Homo sapiens: one gene and its partners. The protein of the gene in region 1 purifies or fractionates together with the protein of each later gene. This does not show direct contact. Each region holds a gene or a part of one and is shown on either strand. Other genes may lie near its edges.

The links.
Region 2: the proteins of PCYOX1 (region 1) and UBE3B purify together in Homo sapiens (co-immunoprecipitation; one large-scale study listed by IntAct). This does not show direct contact.
Region 3: the proteins of PCYOX1 (region 1) and POPDC2 purify together in Homo sapiens (co-immunoprecipitation; one large-scale study listed by IntAct). This does not show direct contact.

What each region holds. Positions count from the first base shown.
Region 1 is NC_000002.12:70,275,087-70,278,514, reverse strand, and holds part of PCYOX1 (prenylcysteine oxidase 1 precursor), read right to left. Parts: coding exon 3,345-3,428; intron 3,002-3,344; coding exon 2,849-3,001; intron 1,782-2,848; coding exon 1,123-1,781; 3' UTR 1-1,122. UniProt on the Homo sapiens protein: Prenylcysteine oxidase that cleaves the thioether bond of prenyl-L-cysteines, such as farnesylcysteine and geranylgeranylcysteine. Only active against free prenylcysteines and not prenylcysteine residues within prenylated proteins or peptides.
Region 2 is NC_000012.12:109,498,006-109,501,659, reverse strand, and holds part of UBE3B (ubiquitin-protein ligase E3B), read right to left. Parts: intron 3,428-3,654; coding exon 3,307-3,427; intron 2,028-3,306; coding exon 1,850-2,027; intron 290-1,849; coding exon 126-289; intron 1-125. UniProt on the Homo sapiens protein: E3 ubiquitin-protein ligase which accepts ubiquitin from an E2 ubiquitin-conjugating enzyme in the form of a thioester and then directly transfers the ubiquitin to targeted substrates.
Region 3 is NC_000003.12:119,650,495-119,654,148, reverse strand, and holds part of POPDC2 (popeye domain-containing protein 2), read left to right. Parts: intron 1-3,654. UniProt on the Homo sapiens protein: Important for the maintenance of cardiac function.

The DNA of each region.
Region 1 (3,428 bases):
GCTGTTAGGCTGTCTGTGCTTATTATCAAGATTACTTCTAAAGTTCTTACTAAGAGAACTGAGAAAGTTCTAAAAGAAAGATCCTTGCAAAATGGATCTGCTTTGATACAGATTGGGCTTCTTAGGACTTCTAAGGCACTAAAACCCTTTGTAGGCATTTTCACACCCACATTGGTGATTCCCAACCCTGGGTGCACATTAGAAACTTTAAATAGCTACAATGCTAAGGTCCTATCCTCAGTCTTTGAATCTGAATCTCTGGTTATGGGGGGGTCTCAGTATTTTTAAAAGCTCCTGAAGTGAGGATTTAATACTAGAATGCCAGTTTCTTAATTCAGTAGCCCATATTTGCTTTTCATTTTACTTGAGATTTTTGTTTAACATCTTCAAGTTACATTACTAAGACTTCTAAATTTCACCCCTAATCAAATCAAGACAGAAGAATCAAAAGACAACATTCTGAAAGTCAAGGCTTTAGGCATGGGCACACGTACTTCAAACCGGTATGAAATTACTAAGAGTCAGGCATAAGACACCAGCTCCCATAAATTTTATCTGACTGAAGATTATATCTAGCTGTAAAATTCAAAAGGACTACTCCCCAACTAAGATGTCTTTAAGTTCTCCCTCAGGTACTCACCTTAAAATGCTCTACAATTTTGATCAAAATCCAGCGCGCCACTCCCAGACCTACTGAATCAGAATCTTCAAGAGAGGAGCTTGAGAATCCATATGGTTTAACAAACTCCAGGTGATTATTTTTATTTACTTTTGAGACGGAGTTTTGCTCGTGTTGCTCAGGCTGAAGTGCAATGGTGAGATTGGCTCACTGCAACCACCACCTCCTAACTCCAGGTGATTCTTATTATCAGACAAGTTTAAGAAAAACTCCTAATGGATAGTGAAAGAATACTTAAGAAATTTTGGAGATGGCATAAGTGCAATAGCTATACCTTCACACTTAATTAGAACCGTGTGTTTTCCTATGACCAGCAGGGATTACTTTTATTAAACAATGATAATGGCAAAATATCTGGTTCAAAATCATCTCTGCTCAGATTTTGTTCTTTTTTGCCACTGATAGTCATTTGGAACTAGGAGGGGAAAAAGGAGTGTGTCACTTCATAGTTCAGTTTTAAGTTTCTCATATAAGCCATCCTGATCAATCATGTCTGTGTGCCCGTTCCAGCGGTGATAGGCAAGGAGTGCAGCGTTGTGGGCTGCAATGGCACTCATCTCCATGGCACTTGCTGCACACTCTATGCCATTGAGGTAATAAAGTCGATCATGGAGAATGATAGAGGGGCATTTCTCCGGGGGCTTATAGTGAGGATATGCAAGCCATGGCTTCTTCACAGCATAATCATAGGACAGAAAGAGCTTTAAAATTTGTGCTTTAGTAAGAGTTTCTTGGGAAAAGATCTTCCAAACATATGTTCCATCTGTTGATGGCTCAGGATCTTCCTTTTCTCTCACAGAGGGCACAATCCCAATACTGTTAATGAACAAATCTGAATTATCAGTGGTTAAAACTGTATTAAGGCCAAATTTATCTATGGGTCTAGAGCTAAAGATAGATGTATTCAATTCCCCCTTAACTAAAGTTGTCACTATATGTTGATAATATTGATGGAATTCCTCAATTGGAGGATCAAAGTTGAGAAAAGTAATATTCGACATTTTTCGATTCAACGGAGTGGCCACCAAGACGATGTCATAGAAGTCTGAACGAGTCTCAGTTCCAATTTGGTAGACCACTTCATACATCTTTGTTGGATTTCCTAGAGGAAATAAGGAGGCATATATTTGTTTAGTGTTTCTAACATACCTTCTAAAAATAATTGTATACCTTCTTCATAATTTCTCTATAATTCTAAAGAATTGAAGAAGTTATATCCCTTAAGATAGTTGTCCCTTGCATTTTTATTACATTGAGGCCAATTTCTTATTCAGAATGTCAGTAAGTACAAAATACAGAATTTTTACTTTTGAAGGTAAGATTATCTTTCGGCCGGGCATGGTGGCTCACACCTGTAATCTCAGCACTTTGGGAGGCCGAGGTGGGTGGATCACGAGGTCAGGAGATCGAGACCATCCTGGCTAACATGGTGAAACCCCGTCTCTACTAAAAATACAAAAAATTAGCCGAGCGCGGTGGCAGGCGCCTATAGTCCCAGCTACTCGGGACGCTGAGGCAGGCGCCTATAGTCCCAGCTACTCGGGACGCTGAGGCAGGAGAATGGCGTGAACCCGGGAGGCGGAGCTTGCAGTGAGCCGAGATAGGCCACTACAGTCCGGCCTGGGCAAAAGAGCGAGACTCCATCTCAAAAAAAAAAAAGATTATTTTTCAAATCCAAGGAGTGATGCCACAGCACTTAACTACACTGGGGAATTTTTTTTTTTTTTTTTTTTTTTTAGATGGAGTCTCACTCCGTCACCCAGGCTAGAGTGCAGTGGTGTGATCTTGGCTCACTGCAACCTCTGCCCCCTGGGTTCATGTGATTCTCCTGCCTCAGCCTCCCGAGTAGCTGGGATTACAGGCACCTGCCACCACGCCCGGCTAATTTTTTGTATTTTTAGTAGAGACAGGGTTTAACTATGTTGGCCAGGCTAGTCTTGATCTCCTGACCTCAGGTGATCCACCCTCCTTGGCCTCCCAAAGTACAGGGATTACAGGCATGAGCCACCGTGCCTGGCCCATTGGGGAATATTTCTATATGGTACAATATATACAATTTCAAGTTTCATCATTTTAGAACTGAGTAAGAGATGACAGAAGAGAAGTGTTTCTCCCTGAGCAATCATTTTCTGCAGGGGATATCAGGAACAATAAGAAATTCAAGCTTACCTGTGTACTTGGTCTTTGTTTTCTCCTCGATGTACATTACTGAGCCAGATATAAGATTGCTTTTGGATGCCTGCAGAAGCCCTGAGCAAACAAGTTTATTGCCACCTTCTACTGCCCAAAGGCCAGAATCAGAACAGGACAGTGACACCGCCCCTGTCAATAGGAGGAAAAATGTGTTTTAATTCTGACTTTTTGTAAGAGGCTCTCTACCCACTCTCCCTTCCCAATTACATGTTCTACTCCAAATGTCTCTAGACATTGCTAAATGGCCCCTGGGAGCAAAATCTCCCCCAGTTAAGAATTACTGAACTAATGAAAGCTAAAGACCCTCTCCCCCTAAAAATGCACATCTACATACGCACAATTTTGCTAACAATGTCTGAGGTTCACAGAGAAAAGTAGCCTCCAATCCACAGCCTAAAGTCAGGAACCACCATAGCATCAGGTAAGCCCCTCTGTGAACTAATGTCCACCACTGTTTCAAGCCCTGGCTTACCCACAAAGGCATTGATGTCCGTGCTTTGGCCATAATTGACCCTCATAACAGGAGCAATCATTTCATTGAGGAACTTCTCAGAAA
Region 2 (3,654 bases), on another chromosome or scaffold:
AACGATAACAACAAAAACAAAGTTAGAGCATCCCACAAACACAGCGGAACATCCATATAGGAAGAAACAGGAGCTGTACTTCAGCCAAGTGGAGCTACAGGGTTGGGCCTGCTCCCGTCACTCACTCTTCACTGGGAGCACATTCTGAGGGGATGCTGGCTGTGCGTGGGCTGGCTCCTGGCTCTCCAGTAGCTTCTTGCTCAGGATGTCACAGAAGAAGATCCGGATCAGAGGCACCCCCCACAAGAACTGCAGCTGTTTGGTGATCAAGTGCATTGACTCGTTAAGGCTAGGAGAGAGCAGAGGAGACCTGGTCTGTCAGTTCCATCTGATGCAGGGCCAGGGCCAGCCCACACAGTTCCTAATGGCCTTCCACTCGGAGCTGTAGCTAGGACCTGGCACTCAACATGGCAAAGAAGATTACAAAAATAAAAAGTGGAACTAACAAATCATTGCTGAGGGGCTGGTACGTCAAGGGCATTGACTCTTCATCTTGTCTGCTTTCCCCAGGTCCCCAAGCTCCATGAGTCACACTCTTCTCGAAGACACTTGCTACCACCCAGGTGACAAAAACAATCTTGTACCCACTGCACTGCCTCCCTCCTCATAGCTGGCTTGCAGGTGGTGGGGGGCCAAATCTAGATGACTCAGCAGCCTCCTCAGTGTTTCCTTGCATTCCAGGGGTTCCTTGCCTGACTCCACACTGCACTCAGCATCCCTCAACTTCCTGGAATCTGCTGTCACCTTCCTGCTCAAGAAGGTGAGGTGAGACTCCTAGTGGTTCCCACATTGATCATCATATTGTTAATAGCCGCCACCCCTGAGTACGGCCAGGCCTGCCTGCTGGTAGGTGCTTCACATGCATTATCTCATTCAATCTTTCTAGAAAGCCCTATCAAAGGGAGGGTGAAAATTATCCCCAGGTTTCAGATGAGGAAAGCAAGGCAAAGCAAGTCGTCCAAGTCCCTCCAAGAAGAGGAAGTGGAGCGGAGAGCAGGCTGTCTGCGGAGGTGCTGCTCTCCTTCACTTACCTCCCACAGCCTCCTGACTCTCAGCACCTCCGCCCCATCCTCCTCAGGCTGAGGTGTCACGCTGGGGCAGGCTGTTCCCTAGCAATGAGTCTTTTTAACTAGATAGGACCCAGGGATGTCACTCAGGTACAACAAAAGAAAAATTTGGGGATTTCCTCCCCAGGCCTTTAGTTTTCTGCTGCAAGGGTAACTGCCAGGGACCCCATGCCTCGAGCAGATATGTGAACAAGAAAACAGCTGGGGCAGCAGAGCTGGTTCCTCTCCAGAAACCACTTTATCTCAGCTCAGGTAGATATTTCAAATTCATGAAGCTGCACCTTACTTGATCTCCCTTCTTCTAGTCTAGTGTTTCTCATGTTTTTAAGTTCATAATTACACTTTTAAAAATTTATATTCCACCTCTTGAAAAGGATTTTGGGTGATTTCTATTCCCTTTGAATCATTTGTCTTGTTTTAGCATCTCCAAAATATGGCAGTCTAGTCAAAAAGTGACAGTGAAGAAGAAAAAACATTGATAAGGTCCATAGCTGAATGGAAGGAACAAAATACAAAATAATAGGATTTCAATTTTGTAAAAAAGGATCAGTATTTCTAGATAGGAAAACTGACAGGATGTTCACTCAAGTTATCTTTGGTTTACAGGATAATGGGCTGGTTTTTATCCTCTTTTGTTCTTACTCACAATTTATTAATATATAATGAATACATATTATTTTTATAATAAGAAACAAAACACCACAAGCTGGAAGAAAGAAAGAAGGAAGAAGAAGATGGTGGGAGAGAGGCAGGAAAGACAGTGATTTGCATCTGGGACTCACCCATAATCCACAGATTGGGAGAACCAGCCAAGGACAGGATGCCAGTGGGTCAGGTTGGACTTCTTCTGAGACACATACTTCCGACAGTAGCACAGCGTCTGGGTGAGCAAACTCACGAACCCATCTGTCTCCTCCTCTAACACTCTGGGGCTGAGGGAGCCCAAGTGTAGGAGGTTGCCTACAGAGAGAGAAGGCTGAGTGTGATGGGCCCAGACAAACATTTTGGTGCCTCCCGGCCCTGCTCCCTGCCTGTGGCTCAGGCGGCCACATCCCATGTGCAGCAAGAAATTTCCACATAAGGGGCACCTGTCAATGCCGGAGGCTGCTGTGTGGTGCAAAGGTAAGAAACGGGCCAAGCTGACTTCAAATCCTGGCTATGCCACAGACAAGGTGAGCCGTGGCCGTCAACCCATGTCTCAAACTTGTTTCTTCATTTGTAAGATTGGAATGATGATCCCTACTCTCCATATGAGGATGAAGTGGCAGGTAAAATGTTAGGCACACAGAGGTAGGTGATATTTAGTTAGTGTTACATTTTAATATTATATTAATGCTTAAAAATCAAGGGTTAACATAAGAAATGGTCTTTGAAGAGTATCTGAGTGTCGTGGGAAGTCGCTGTTATTCAACGTTCACCAGTTAGTCAACGTCACTCGTGTGAACATTCGCACCAGAAACTCCTCATGAAATTTGGCCCCAGGGAAGTTTTTATCTCAAGTCTGTAATCTCGCAGGCTGAGGCGTGTGGATTGTTCGAGCCCAAGGAGACTAGACTGGGCAACATGGTGAAAAACCCCGTCTCCACTAAAAATACAAAAATTAGTCGGCCGTGGTAGTGTGCGCTTGTAGTCCCAGCTACTCAGGAGGCTGAGGTGGGAGGATCACCTAAGCCCAGGAGGTAGAGGATGCAGTGAGCCATGACTGTGCCACTGCAGTCCAGCCTGGGTGACAAAGTGAGACCCTGTCTTCAAAAAAAAAAAAACAAAAAAAACTTTTCCTATCTAAAATAAATTTAGGCAAGGAGAATTCTGTGCCTCTGCCTCAAATGCTTCTATTCATAAACCCTTTCTTCCATCTACAATGAAAACACTGTAAAATAGGTAAAGCAGGCGCTGCTCTGATATAAGCCCCACCTAACTACTCCCTCCCTTCTCTCTTGAGATGGGAATTATCCAGGCAATTCACCACATTTTCACTTTCTCCTTGACTGCCAGGAAGCTAAAGGCTGACATCTAATGTTCATTAACAGTCACTTAACTAGTTTGCCAGGCTGGAATATTTTCCATGTGATTTTTATTTACATGTCTATTTTAACTGTCTATCTAAATACGTGTTTTTTATTGTAAGCACTTCCAATTGTTACAGAAAACAACCAAATCTCTAGAATAGTGACAGGCAAAACACTCGGGCTTTCCCTGATGGCCAGGACACAATCAAGTTCCAGCCACGGATACTTACCCATTAGACAAAGCGTATGGCATCCTTCTAAACTTTCACATACATCACGGCATCGATCTTGGTCTCTTAAAAATATGATGAATTTACGAAGCATGTCATGGGATTCTAAAACAGTGAGGCGCTGCAAAGAATAGCAGACCGTTAAATCAGAAACTGCCAGAAACAGTTTCCTGTAGAGAGTGAACTTGATCACTTGCAGATCACCCGTGGTTATGGAGGATGTGCTAGCAAACACCAAGAAGAAAATGGACAGACAAGAACCCACTTCTTTGGGCTACTAACACAAATGTGTCTATCACGGCCACTGGTCCCAAAGAACAATTAAAGGGAGGTGTGGAAATAAGCAGA
Region 3 (3,654 bases), on another chromosome or scaffold:
ATGCTGAACCACTAGTACTTCCCTAAACACACCACATTGTTTTGCAGCTCTATGCCTTGGCCCCTACTCTCCCCTCTGAAATGCATTTCCCCTTCTAGATGAGACCACGGAACCTCACTTCCACTGTGAAGCCTGCTTCCACCCCACAGCCTCACCAGCTTCCACCCCACAGCCTAGCACTCCTGTGTGCCTGTTCTAGTCCTTTTACTTATGCTAACTGGTGCACATCTTGCTGTCTGTTCTAATAATCTGGTCTCCTTTCTGTCTTCTGCACAGTGAACTCTGAAGTACAAATCTAGGCTTTTCCCTCTCTGTTCCCAGACTCTAAAGGAAAGTACCTGGAGCACAGCAGCTGTTCAGTAAAGAATTGCTTGCCGGGCGCGGTGGCTCACGCCTGTAATCCCAGCACTTTGGGAGGCTGAGGTGGGTGGATCCTGAGGTCAGGAGATCGAGACCATCCTGGCTAACACGATGAAATCCCGTCTCTACTAAAAATACAAAAAATTAGCCGGGCATGGTGGCGGGCACCTGTAGTCCCAACTACTTGGGAGGCTGAGGCAGGAGAATGGCGTGAACCCGGGAGGCGGAGCTTGCAGTGAGCCGAGATTGCGCCACTGCACTCCAGCCTGGGCGACAGAGTGAGACTCCGTCTCAAAAAAAAAAAAAAAAGAATTGCTGAACTGGTTTGCCACTGGGCAGCTGGTGTCCCAGAGGACTCCATGGGGCATTCACATACATGCTCCAATGCAGGTTCCTGGCTGCCTGGCCCCTACTCTTCTTATCTCTGCCAATCCCTCAGGCTTTGGTCACTTTCTTTGTAGCTCTCACTTATTGAATGGCTAGCATGTGGCAGGCACTACGTATCATATTGCCTCATTGATTCTCATAACAACTCTATGGGTTGAATATGATTATTACTCCATTTAACAACTGAGGAAACTAAGGCCCAAAAACATCAAGTAATTTGCCCAGGGTCTTCAGCTAGAAAGTGACAAAGCCAAGTTGCCTGGATCTACCATTTCTGTTCTTTATTAAAATGGGAAGGTCACCAGAAGAGTAGAGTTTACACACACACATACACACACACACATGCACACGCATGCACACACGCGCACACACACTCACTCACCCTTTTAAGGACTCCCCTGCCTGGATAGTTTGCTGGACCTGGAAACACTGGATTCCATGTGTCTCCTACTACTTTTATCAGGGAGTCCCTCAAGCCAACATATGAGCCAACCCCGGAACAGACACACACCGGGCAGTGCTACCTGGCAGGGCCTGCTTCTGCCCCCACCCTGACACTTGGCTCTGTGATGATGGAGCCTGAGAGGCAGTCCTGATCCCACTGCCAGGGTCACCAGCCACAGATCCACTTCCATCATGTTCCTACCCTGACCTCCGTCCACACACCCTCCCTAACTAGTCCAGAAACCTTCTTCAGGAACTCTCTCAGGCACATGAGAACCTCCAGGAGGGCTCAGTCAGGACCTGAGCCAGCTGGACCAGGCCTCTTTCTGACACTGACACGGAGGAACAGGTGGTGGGTAAGCCGGGTGTCCTCCCCTAAGTTACGCTCAAGAGGAAGGGCTGTAACCTCACATGGCCTCTCAGCCTGGAATGTAGGTATGGTCATGTTCCTCCCATTTATATTTTTAGCGTGTACCTCCTTTGGGAGTAATGAGAGCCACACATTTGCTATTGGCTGTGTAAAGTCCCATTTCCTCTTTGCAAATGTCAAGTGTTATCTTAAGTTAGAGTTCATCCTGTCCTTGCCTTTTGCAATTACATAGTCTTTGTTGACTGAGAGCAATCCACAGTGACAGCCTAAATTATAATTCACATTGTACCTAATATAAATCAATCAGCATTCCAGCACACCTCTCGACAATTCAATTAAGTCAGAATTCATTGTGTGTTCGGCACTGTGACACTCATTAGTCACCAAGAACACAGCACAGGAGGGATCACACAGAAATCATCACTGTTTTTCTAATTTGCATCCTATCTTACTGGACCTAAGTCCTATTTACATAGGTTATCTCATTTAATTCATTCAACCAACATCTGAGATGAGTATTAAAAAAAAAGCTAAATACTTGTCAAAACGTTACAACAGATATGTCTATATATATGGGAGAACCAATCAAGAAGCAGATTTCAGGAGGACCTTTGGGGAAGGATTTTATACAGGACATGAGAAAGCAACATTAGAGGCTGGGCGCGGTGGCTCACACCTATAACCCCAGCACTTTGGGAGGCCGAGGCAGTTGGATTATGAGGTCAGGAGTTTGAGACCAGCCTGGCCAACATGGTGAAACCCCATCTCTATTAGAAAATACAAAAATTAGCCAGGGTGGTGGCAGGTGCCTATAATCCCAGCTACTCGGGAGGCTGAGGAAGGATAATTGCTTGAACCCGGGAGGTGGACATTGCAGTGAGCTGAGATCACACCGCTGTACTCCAGCCTGGGTGACAGAGCAAGACTTCGTCTCAGGGGGGCGGTGGGGTGGGGGAAGAAAGTGACATTAGGTTGTTTTGCAATATACAAGATTGGCTGTCTTCCCTTGATTCATTTATTCACTTCAATAATATTTATTGAAAACTTAGTATATACCAGGCACTGTTAAAAGGATTTGAAATATATCAGTGAACAGAACAGATGAAGGTCCCTCCCCTCATGCAATTTACATTCTAATGGGGGAGACAAAAAGCCATAGGCATAATGAATAAGTAAATTATATAATTTGTTAGAGGATAATCACTGCTAGTTTAAAAAAAAAAACCTAGAGTAGTGCAAGGGAGAAATGGTGGCAATTTTAAATAGGGTGGTCATGGAAATCCTTGTTAAGCAGATAACATTTGAGCAAAAACCTGAGAGAGATGACAGGTGAGGTCTGTGAATATCTGGGAAAAGCATATCAGACAGAGGAAAGAGCCAGTGCAAAGGCCCTGAGGTGGGGCCAGTGTGTTTGATGCACAGAAAGGAGGACAGTGGACCTGGAATGGAGAGAGGAAGGGGAGGGAATAGCAGGAGAGAAAGTTGGAGAGGTGACGAGGTAGCAAGATCATGTAGGGCCATAGCATATATTGTCTAGATACAGCCAAAAGGATTTTCTAAAGGGTTGGATATAGTATGTGAGAGAAAGAGAAGATCAAGGAAGACTCTAAGGCTTTTGGCCTGAGCAACTGGACAGGTGGTGCTGCTGTCAACTGAGACAAAGAAAGCTGCAGGTAGAGCTGCTTTCGGGGGACTAGGAAGTTCAGTGTTTGATGTTAGGTTTGCATCATCTGTGGACATTTGAATGGAGATGCTGCATAGGCAACTGGATATTTAAGTCTGAAATTCAGGAATGAGATCTGGGCCTGAGACATAAATTTGGGAGTTGGTTGTATGCAGATGATATTTAAAGCCATTGGATAGGATGAGCTCACCAAGTGAGTGAGTGTGGATGGAAGAGGGAATGGTTCAAGAGCGGAGCCCTGGGATACTTTAGTGGTGAGGAGTTGGAGAGGAAAGGAGGAAGCAGCAAAGGAGCTTGAAAAGGAACAATCATGAGATTGGGCAAGGAGTGTATGGCATCCTGGGAACCAAGTGAAGAAGATATATCAAAGAGGAAGGGGAAATTGATGGATGCCATGAAAACTGACCAT